Linked DNA regions of Homo sapiens: region 2 is linked to region 1. The links come from fine-mapping of genetic effects on gene expression. A gene starts in region 1. The other region holds a variant in brackets. All regions are shown on one strand. Distances are from middle to middle.

Region 1 (4,396 bases):
ACCATGTTCTTGTTTTACTATGCATTTCATTGAGCTTTTTGCAATATATTTTTGTTTCCTACTTTTATTTCCCTCCTCCTTTTTCTAGTGGGTTGTCTATAAATGTGTCTTGCTCATCTATAATTGATTTCTAATGTTTTCTTATTGATTGTATTAACTCTATATATAATTTTAAAATTAACACTTTGCAAATTTCTTGCAAATATCCCAGTCTATTGCTTATCTTTAAATTTTGGCTATTATGGCCAAGCATGGTGGCTCACACCTGTAATCCCAGCACTTTGGGAGGCTGAGGCAGGTGCATCACTTGAGGCCAGGAGTTCGAGACCAGCCTGGCCAACAAGGCAAAACCCTGTCTCTACTAAATAGCCAGGTGTGGTGGCTGGTGCTTGCCTGTAATCCCAGCCACTCAGGTGGCTAAGGCACAAGAATTGCTTGAATCTGCAGTGAGCTGAGATCATGCCACTGTGCTTAGCCTGGGTGACACAGTGAGACTGTCTCTAATACATACATATATATATATATATATATATATATATATATACACACACACATAAATTTTGGCTATTTTTATTTGATGTTTCTGATTGCCTGTGTTTAAATCTGCCTTTATCTCCTTTGTGTTCGCCGGTGAATTTAAAGTGCATATGTAGACAGGGGTTAAGTGTAAATCACACTGAACCTATATTAACAACAGCATCTTTTAGAAATAATATAGGAGCTGTTATCACATCCCTGTCCCTGAGTTTGACACTACCTGAGTTGAGTTCTTATTCTGCCACTCCCTCTGCCAAACCCTTGGATCTAGAGTTGACAGATAAAATACCCAGTTAAGTTTGATTTTCAGATACCCAGGATGTAAATTTGAATTTCAGATATACCATTTTTTTTTTTTTTTTTTGGTAGAGATGGAGTTTCATCATGTTGGCCAGGCTGGTCTCGAACTCCTGGATTCAAGTTATCTACTCACCTCGACCTCCCAAAGTGCTGGGATTACAAGCTTCCTGTAAGTACTTAAAAAAAATAAGTATATCCCAAATATTGCATGGGTCATAGTGATACTAAAAAGTTACATATTGTTCACCTGAAATTATTTACTTATTTTTTTGAGACAGAGTCCGGCTCAGTCACCCAGGTTGGAGTGCAGTGGTGCGATCTGAGCTCACTGCAACCTCTGCCGCCCGGGTTCAAGCGATTCTCGTGCCTCAGCCTCCCAAGTGGCTGGGATTACAGGTGCAGGCCACCACACCCGGCTAATTTTTGTATTTTTAGTAGAGACGGGGTCTCACCATGTTGGCCAGGCTGGTCTCAAACTCCTGGCCTCAAGTGATCCTCCTGCTACCGCTCCTAAAGTGCTGAGATTACAGGCGTGGGCCACCGCGCCCAGCCTGAAATTCAATTTTAATTGAGTATGCTGTATTTTTATTTGCTAAATCTGGCACTCCTATTTGGGGCTAGTTTACTAACACCTGCTTACTGAACACCATCCAGTACCAGGTTTTGGGGTGAGTGGGTTGGGGGGAAGCAGAAAGAAAAGATAGCTCCAGCTCTTGGAGAGTTCATACTCTGGTTTCCTGGAGAATTCTAAAATCATTAAAATAATCCTCTCGACCATTACAATGACTGCTAGATGAAATTTCTGAGAGCACAGCTTCCGAGTTTCCCTGCTGCCTAGGGCAGAGTTATCCACCTTCACCTTATCATAGAACCACCTGAGACGCCCCTGCCATGGACAGTCTGATGCTTTTGGTTTGGGGAGGGATCCAGAAGCCCGAGGTTTTAATGAGAGCCACGTGATTCTGCTGAGATAAGTCTGGAGAACTCTGGCAAGCCTGTCTCTTGGCTCAGGCTTGGAGGCCTCCGAGCAGCAACATCGTCCCAATTATACCCCGTTGGAGCATCTTCAGATCTTCCACTCTTTTCACAACGCAATCAAAATCTTCGTACCCATTTTGCAGTAGTGATCTCTGTAAGTTGCTTTACAATTCATAAAGTTTATTCTATTTGATCTTCACTCTAATTTACAAAGAAAAGCAGGGAAGTCTATTTCTGTTTTACAGAGGTGTACAGGGAGGCTCACAGGGGCTAAGTTCACACAGTAAGCCCTCGAAGCTGCCAGGGCTGCAAAGCCCACCCTCTTTCCACCGCACCGAACTACCTCCTTTCGCCTACAAAACGTAGGTGGGGACCACTGGTGTTGGAATGACGGCCCACCTCGAGTTTCAGGTGACTTCCACTCTGCAATTAACTTGCAGGCAGCCCCAGACCTGCAATGAACACACGGGTGGGGGAGAGATATGCACGCCAGGGTCAGTGGGAACCAACAGCCGAGGGGTGAGCGGGGCTAGGGGCCCCGGGCCGCCGGCGGGGCAAACGCGGTTCAGAAACGCAGGCCGCGCTCTGGCCCGCCCCCTGCAGCAGCACGGCCTGCTCGCCATCGCCCGGAGAGCGCCGCGGGTTCCCGAGTCCGGGCGCGGAGGGCGCGCGGGCACGGCGGCAGGGGCGTGCTCGGAGGACGCGCGCTGCGCTGCTCCTCCAAAGGGCAGCTCCGGGGGAAAGAGGGTGGCGTCCCGGGGAAGCCCGCAGCCGCCGCCGATGTCGCTGGGACTCGGAAGTGCCGAAAGAGGGGTGTTGGGAACTCGCGGCGCGCGTGAACGTTGCCGTCGCCGCCGCCCGGGACAGCCCGGAGGTTGGTAACTGGTGACCATAGGGGGTCCTGGGGAGGTTAGATGCTGAATTTTCTGCGTCAGTTTACTCTGTTAAAAAAAAAATGCACAAAACGCTTTCCGTTTCCTACCCAAGTTCCCGTGTGCGCGCCCGAGGGCGGGACAGAGGAAGTTCCCGGTCGGGCGAAGAAGACAAAAGCGGCGGGGGCCGCGCGCGCAGTGCGCCCGGGCAAAGGCGGGGATCTAGGCGCCGGGACAAGTCCGCGCACGGCCCTGCCCACGTCCTCTCTCCTTGGCTTCGTCCCCAGCTTCCGGAACTGCTGCGGGGAGTTGCGAACTCTGGTCCTCTTGGCAGTATCGGCGGTGCGCCTGCCTGCCTGCTGTGACTCCAGGGACTCTAAAGTTAGAGACTTCCTTTGCGTTCTATCTTCAGGACTCAGTTTTCTTCCTCTGTTCTGAGTCTAACCTTCAGGTGGCAGGTCTTTATGCGGAAAAACCCTCCCGCTAATCCTCACCAGAGGTACTTTACGGGTAGCATTGGTGTTAAGAAATGTGCTGCTACCTGTGTACATTGCTCTTGGATCAGGGTTGTAGGGCTAGGGCATTTGGCATCCTCAGAGGTTTGCATTACGTGGGAGTGAGACATTGCTTCTCTTTCTGTTTTTGTTGTTGTTTGTGTTTTTGAGGCGGAGTTTCGCTCTGGTCGCCCAGGCTGGAGTGCAATGGCACAATCTCAGCTCACTGCAACCTCAGCATCCCGGTTTCAAGCGATTCTCCAGCCTTGCCTCCTGAGTAGCTGGGATTACAGGCATGCGCCACCACGCCCACCTAATTTTGTATTTTTAGTAGAGACGAGGGTCTCACCGTGTTGGCCAGGCTGGTCTCGAATTCCTGACCTCGGGTGATCTGCCCACCTCGACCTCCCAAAGTGCTGGGATTACAGGCGTGAGCCACCGTGCCTGGCATCTCATTCATTCTCAGAGCTAAGGACCTATTTCAATGTGATTAAGTGCTATGGGAATGCAAGGAGAGGAGAGGGAAGGCTTCATTGAAGAGGCGGTAGTTCATTGAAGGAGACTTTGAGGAATGATTTTTTTCCCCTTCCATTCCTCATGTTCCATTTTCCCTGTGATTTTTCTCCCTCCTTTCTCGTTGCCAGTCAGTCCCTAATTGTGATTGTTTGATAAGGACAGCTCTGACCTGAGAGATTCAATTAATGTTAATTTAAGGAGACTGTGTGCTTATTAGGTGCTTTAGATACATTATTTCTAAACCTTACAGTAACTGGGAAAGATAAGTGTTGTTATCTCTTTTCACAGTAGGATAGAGAAAGCCTTGGAGGGGAGCCAAAGCCACAAACTAGTACATGTCAGGGCCGGGTTTTGGACTCCTCTTTTGGATCAACGCCTGTGCTTTATCTACTGTTTACTTTGCCCCCTCCTTGGAAGTAGGTTAGATGGATGAACTTAGGGTGAAAGTCAATTCTTTGGAGGGAGCAGCCGTTTTTGTGGGTGGCCAGATGTTGGTGGGAGCTCTGTAGGTAGCATCAGGAACTTGCGAGCATGGGCCTTACCTGCACCCCCTGCTTCCAGCTTAGGACCTGGCCCAGGGGGAATGTTCCCTAAAGCAGTGGTCCCCAACCTTTTTGGCACCAAGGACCGGTTTCATGGACAATAAGTTTTTCATGGACTGGGGGAAGGGGGATGGTGTTGGGATAATTCAAGCACGTT
Region 2 (4,396 bases), 76 kb after region 1:
CTGGTTCCTAGTCTATTCTATTCCCCATCTCTTCCTACTCTGAAGCTGGAGCAGTCATTTAACCTCTGAGCCTCAATCTCATCATTTGGAAAACAGAAGTAATAAATCCTCTTCCTTCCTCATGGGATTGTTCTGAGAGTCAAACGGGATAATCTATGTTAAGTGATTTTGTGAAAATTGTAGCATTTTGAAAGTTCAAGTATTTTTTGCTGTTTTTAGTCTACCTTCATTTTTCTCACTCTCATTAATGATGTGGGGCTAGCATTTTAAGCACGTATGTCAAAATCTGGACTTATGAGAGTATATCAGATAATCACTCCGTTTTAATGAAGATACTTCCCAGAATGATTAGGCAACCATTTAGGCAAGTGTGCTTAAAAACAGATTTACAGTAAAAATAAAAACAAGCTCATACCTAACCTTTTGGGGACCTGGCAAGTGTACAAACAGAATCTAATTCCATTTATCATTTATTTGGGGACAATTAGCATCAGTTATAGATGTTGGAGGTGAATAAATGTTCATTTGTTCTGCAAATTTTACAGTGATTTGAAAAACACTGAGGAAGGAGATCATGTGATTAGAAACTAGCTGGGTTTCCATGCTTTTGCACATGTGGTTCTCCTGATATGATTATCCTCTTTTCCCTTGGTGGCTGCTAAAGTCTTGTACAAGAAGTAGAAACTCTGTTCAGTGGTTGGTTTTTCTGTGTACAGCTTTAAGAGACCCTGATGGATCAAGTTAATTACTTTCTCCTTTGACCCAAGTTCTATTTCTCGTATGTATTTCCATAAATAGTTTTTCTCACTAAATGTATTTTTGGAAAACATGGAAAATGTAGAAAAATATAGAAATTAGAAAATACTTCATAATTTTACTCCCCGATATTAACATTTTATTGTATTTCCTTCTCATTTTTTGTTCCATGCATATTTTTGCACAGGTTATTTCTTGTTTCATGCTCTATTGTAATTGCATTTTTACACATCTACGTCCTGTATGAGAATTTAACATATTGAGGGCAGGGACTTTTTTTTTTTTTTTTTAAATATTTGTCTGTAAAGCTTATTAGACAAATGCTACTCAACTAAATGTAGAGCCAAACTGATAACAAAAGAGGAAAACGAAAAATACATTGAAGACAGAAATCCCATGGGACATTTTAAGCCCCTCTTTGTTATCTGAATTGTTGAAGAAGCTGTCAAAGTATCCACTGGATGTAGCTAATCTGCACCTTATGCCCTGGATGTATCTGATACATGCCTAACTGGGAAAACCTTCGTTATGTTGTGTCAGACCTAATGCTAGGTTAACATTAGAGATGTCCTTTTTCCTACTGCTCATTAACTGCTTGCTTTGATTACCAATGAGATTTACCTGGTGTTCATTGGTTCTCGACTGCCTTTTATGGCACAGCTGCTCTGCCTGAAGAAGAAATTGCCTTCCCAGAGCCCCCTGGGATTCTCAGATGACGGTGGCCCTGCTGGCCAGCACCTGCAGTGGGACTGGACGATGTCCCTGCTGGCCACTCAAAGGTTGTTCTCTCCTTTTGATTTTGTAGAGAAGGTGGTACAAGACAGAAAACGAGTACTACCTGCTGCAGTTCACGCTGACCGTTCGCTGCCT[G/C]TACTACACCAGCTTCAGCCTGGAGCTCTGCTGGCAGCAGCTGCCTGCTGCATCGACCTCCTACTCCTTTCCCTGGATGCTGGCCTATGTCTTTTATTATCCAGTCTTACACAATGGGCCCATCCTCAGCTTCTCGGAGTTCATCAAACAGGTAGAGCCCGCTGGGGATGGGATTGGGATTCTATAGCTTAAGCCTTTGTCGCTGTTGCTCTGGTCTTCTCTGACTCTTGAGTCGTTTTGTTCAGAGGTGCCCACAGATTTACAACACATACTATTAGTTCTCATGAGGTTTTTTGTAATAGATGAAATACATATGAGAAATGAGCCTTTAAAATAAAGTTTGACCCATCAGATATGTCAGCTCTAGGGGGTCCCACCTTGATTTTCAGTGAACTCTGGCAACCAGGATTAATGAGTAGGGCACAACAAGGAGTTTGGGAGTTGGTATCCACTGTGGCAAAGTCCCAAGGAAAGAAAAAAATTTGATTATGATGCTATTACTTGAAGGAATAGAAAAGGAAACTGTCTAAGCTGTTGCTTGGCAAATAGTATGTTTCCTTTTATATTCACAAGCTGCTTAAGAAATAGTCCTGCCATAGCCTGGGAGCTGTTCAGGGTGACCTAGGTGTGAAAACAGAGTGGAGTTGAAGTAAGTTCGAAGGCAGTGGTGTGTGTTCATGTCTGGATCCCCCTTTGTGCCCAGGCCCCCGCCTGCCTTCCTCGGACGGCATCCTTGTCTGAAATGCCATGTTAAGCTACCTCTGTTGTTCCCCCCTACTTCACTTTTCCCCCTTGTTTAGAACTTTCTTTTTTTTCTGCCTCCTCAACCTACCTCTAGTTTCATGGAACATAATTGCTAAGTTAATTCACCTAAGGAATTAGTAATTGAAAATGCCTAAAACAGTGTTCTCAAGGGATATTCTATCCCTCACCAACAAAACAATCCTCATAGAGGAGAAAATAACATGTACGTGCATACACAGACATGCATGCACACGCAGAACACATACCCACGCATACGCACACACCTGGAAGGGCAGGGCAAGCAGCAGTGTTGCACATTTCTGGGCAGCAACATGAAAGTTGCTCCCTGAAAAAGGAGGGTTCTTAGAAATCTTATTTTGTCCTCAAAGTTCCACTGAATTATGCATTGTATTCAAGAATATATTTTTGCATTATAACAATAACATAATGTTCTAAAATTTCCAGTGAAAGTATGTAACTTTTTATATCTCTAGAAATCTGTAAGTGAAATTGATATTCTAGACAGATATGTTTAGTCTATGGTTTCTCATACCTCGGTTTGGGATCGTTCTTTTGTCATGAAGGAATTTAAAATCTGCATTTGAAATTGTGTTTAAAATTATTGTGTAAAAGAGATGGTTTAATGATGGCAGCTGATCTTCTAACTCAATGATTTGCAAAGTGTGGTTCCTGGACCAGCAGCATCAGTATCGCCAGAGAGCTTGTTAGAAATACAAATTCTCAGGTCCTCTCCAACCTCCTGAATCACAGCCTCTAGGGATAAAGCCCAGGAAGGTGGTTTAACAGGCCCTCCAGGAGGAGGGTGGGAGTAAAGGTAAGGTGGGCACAGCATAGGGTGGGTTCCTCTCTTTTACAATCTCCTTACCTTTGTGAACTTTTGAATTATTCTCAGTTTGCCAGCCAATAACTTTTGGACCAAACATCCACACACAGACACCCCTCTCCTGAGGATGGCTGGTAATTTTCAGAGAAACATAAACTAAATCCATTAGAAGGAAACAGATTATTTTCCTAACTTCCTCCTGTATATAAGCTTTGCCTGTATGCTCTGTACTTTGTTATTATGCAAAATAATTGTTTCTGTTATTTCTCATCTCCTTTTTCTTCTTTTTTTTTTTGAGACAGAGTCTTACTCTGTCACCCAGGCTGGAGTGCAGTGGTGTAATCTCAGCTTACTGCAACCTCCACCTCCTGGGTTCAAGTGATTCCCGTGTCTGAGCCTCCTGAGTAGCTGGATTACAGGCATGCACCAGCAAGTCCAGCTAATTTTTTGTATTTTTAGTAGAGACCGGGTTTTGCTATGTTTCCCAGGCTTGTCTCTAACTCCTGAGGTCAGGCAATCTGCCCTCAGCCTCCCAAAGTGCTAGGATTACAGGCTTGAGCCTGGCCTCCCTTTTCAAATTGTGCCTTTTAGGGTCTAGTAAGAATATTAGAGGCCTCTAGCAGGGTCCTGTGTCACACAGAGGCACGCTTTAAGATTATCTTCCACCTAAATCCTTAGCCAAGGGTTCTCATTCTCTTGAGTCTCATTCTGGGGAAGTGAAGGGGCAGGTTGCTTCCTGTAGGGGCCAGGTATAGACACTCTGGGTTTTATCCATGTCTTTTCCTTCCCTCTCTCTCTCTTCTTTTTTAACCCCTTCTAAAACAATAGCAATTGCTGACAGCAGGGAACTTGAAAGGGCAAATTAAAACCTCTATGTTTGGGGGAGTATTCATAGAATAGTCATTCTAGAAAAGGATAAATGTTCAGTAAGATATAGGGCAAATTTAAAAAGCCAGGAGGTTTCTGCACTTGCTGAAGGTGGCTGTGGGGAACTTCCCTTCTGTGGGGAAGGGGGCTTTAAAGGGGCAGGGGGTTAAACCAAAAAGCTTATCTTGCAGTGAAAGGGTTCTTTCAGAGAAGCCAAAAAGGAAAAGGCTGGGAGGTGGAGAAAGAAAGCTAGTTGGAAGAACTAGTAAGTAAGATTTGCTCTGAATGAATGCTTGAATGAATGCATGCATGAAA

What was found.
Region 2: its variant is fine-mapped to the expression of HHAT in prefrontal cortex (BrainSeq, PIP 0.95).

What each region holds. Positions count from the first base shown.
Region 1 is chr1:210,326,416-210,330,811 of GRCh38, forward strand. HHAT (hedgehog acyltransferase) reads left to right here and starts at 2,487. Exons shown (of 12, transcript NM_018194.6): 1 at 2,487-2,689. RefSeq lists enhancers at 1,660-1,829, 2,704-3,063, 4,176-4,345 and a silencer at 2,294-2,543.
Region 2 is chr1:210,402,903-210,407,298 of GRCh38, forward strand. HHAT (hedgehog acyltransferase) reads left to right here. Exons shown (of 12, transcript NM_018194.6): 6 at 1,562-1,777. Among named protein-coding and RNA genes, the nearest start is that of HHAT, 76 kb to the left of the region's middle. The variant G/C (reference allele first, on the strand shown) is at 1,627.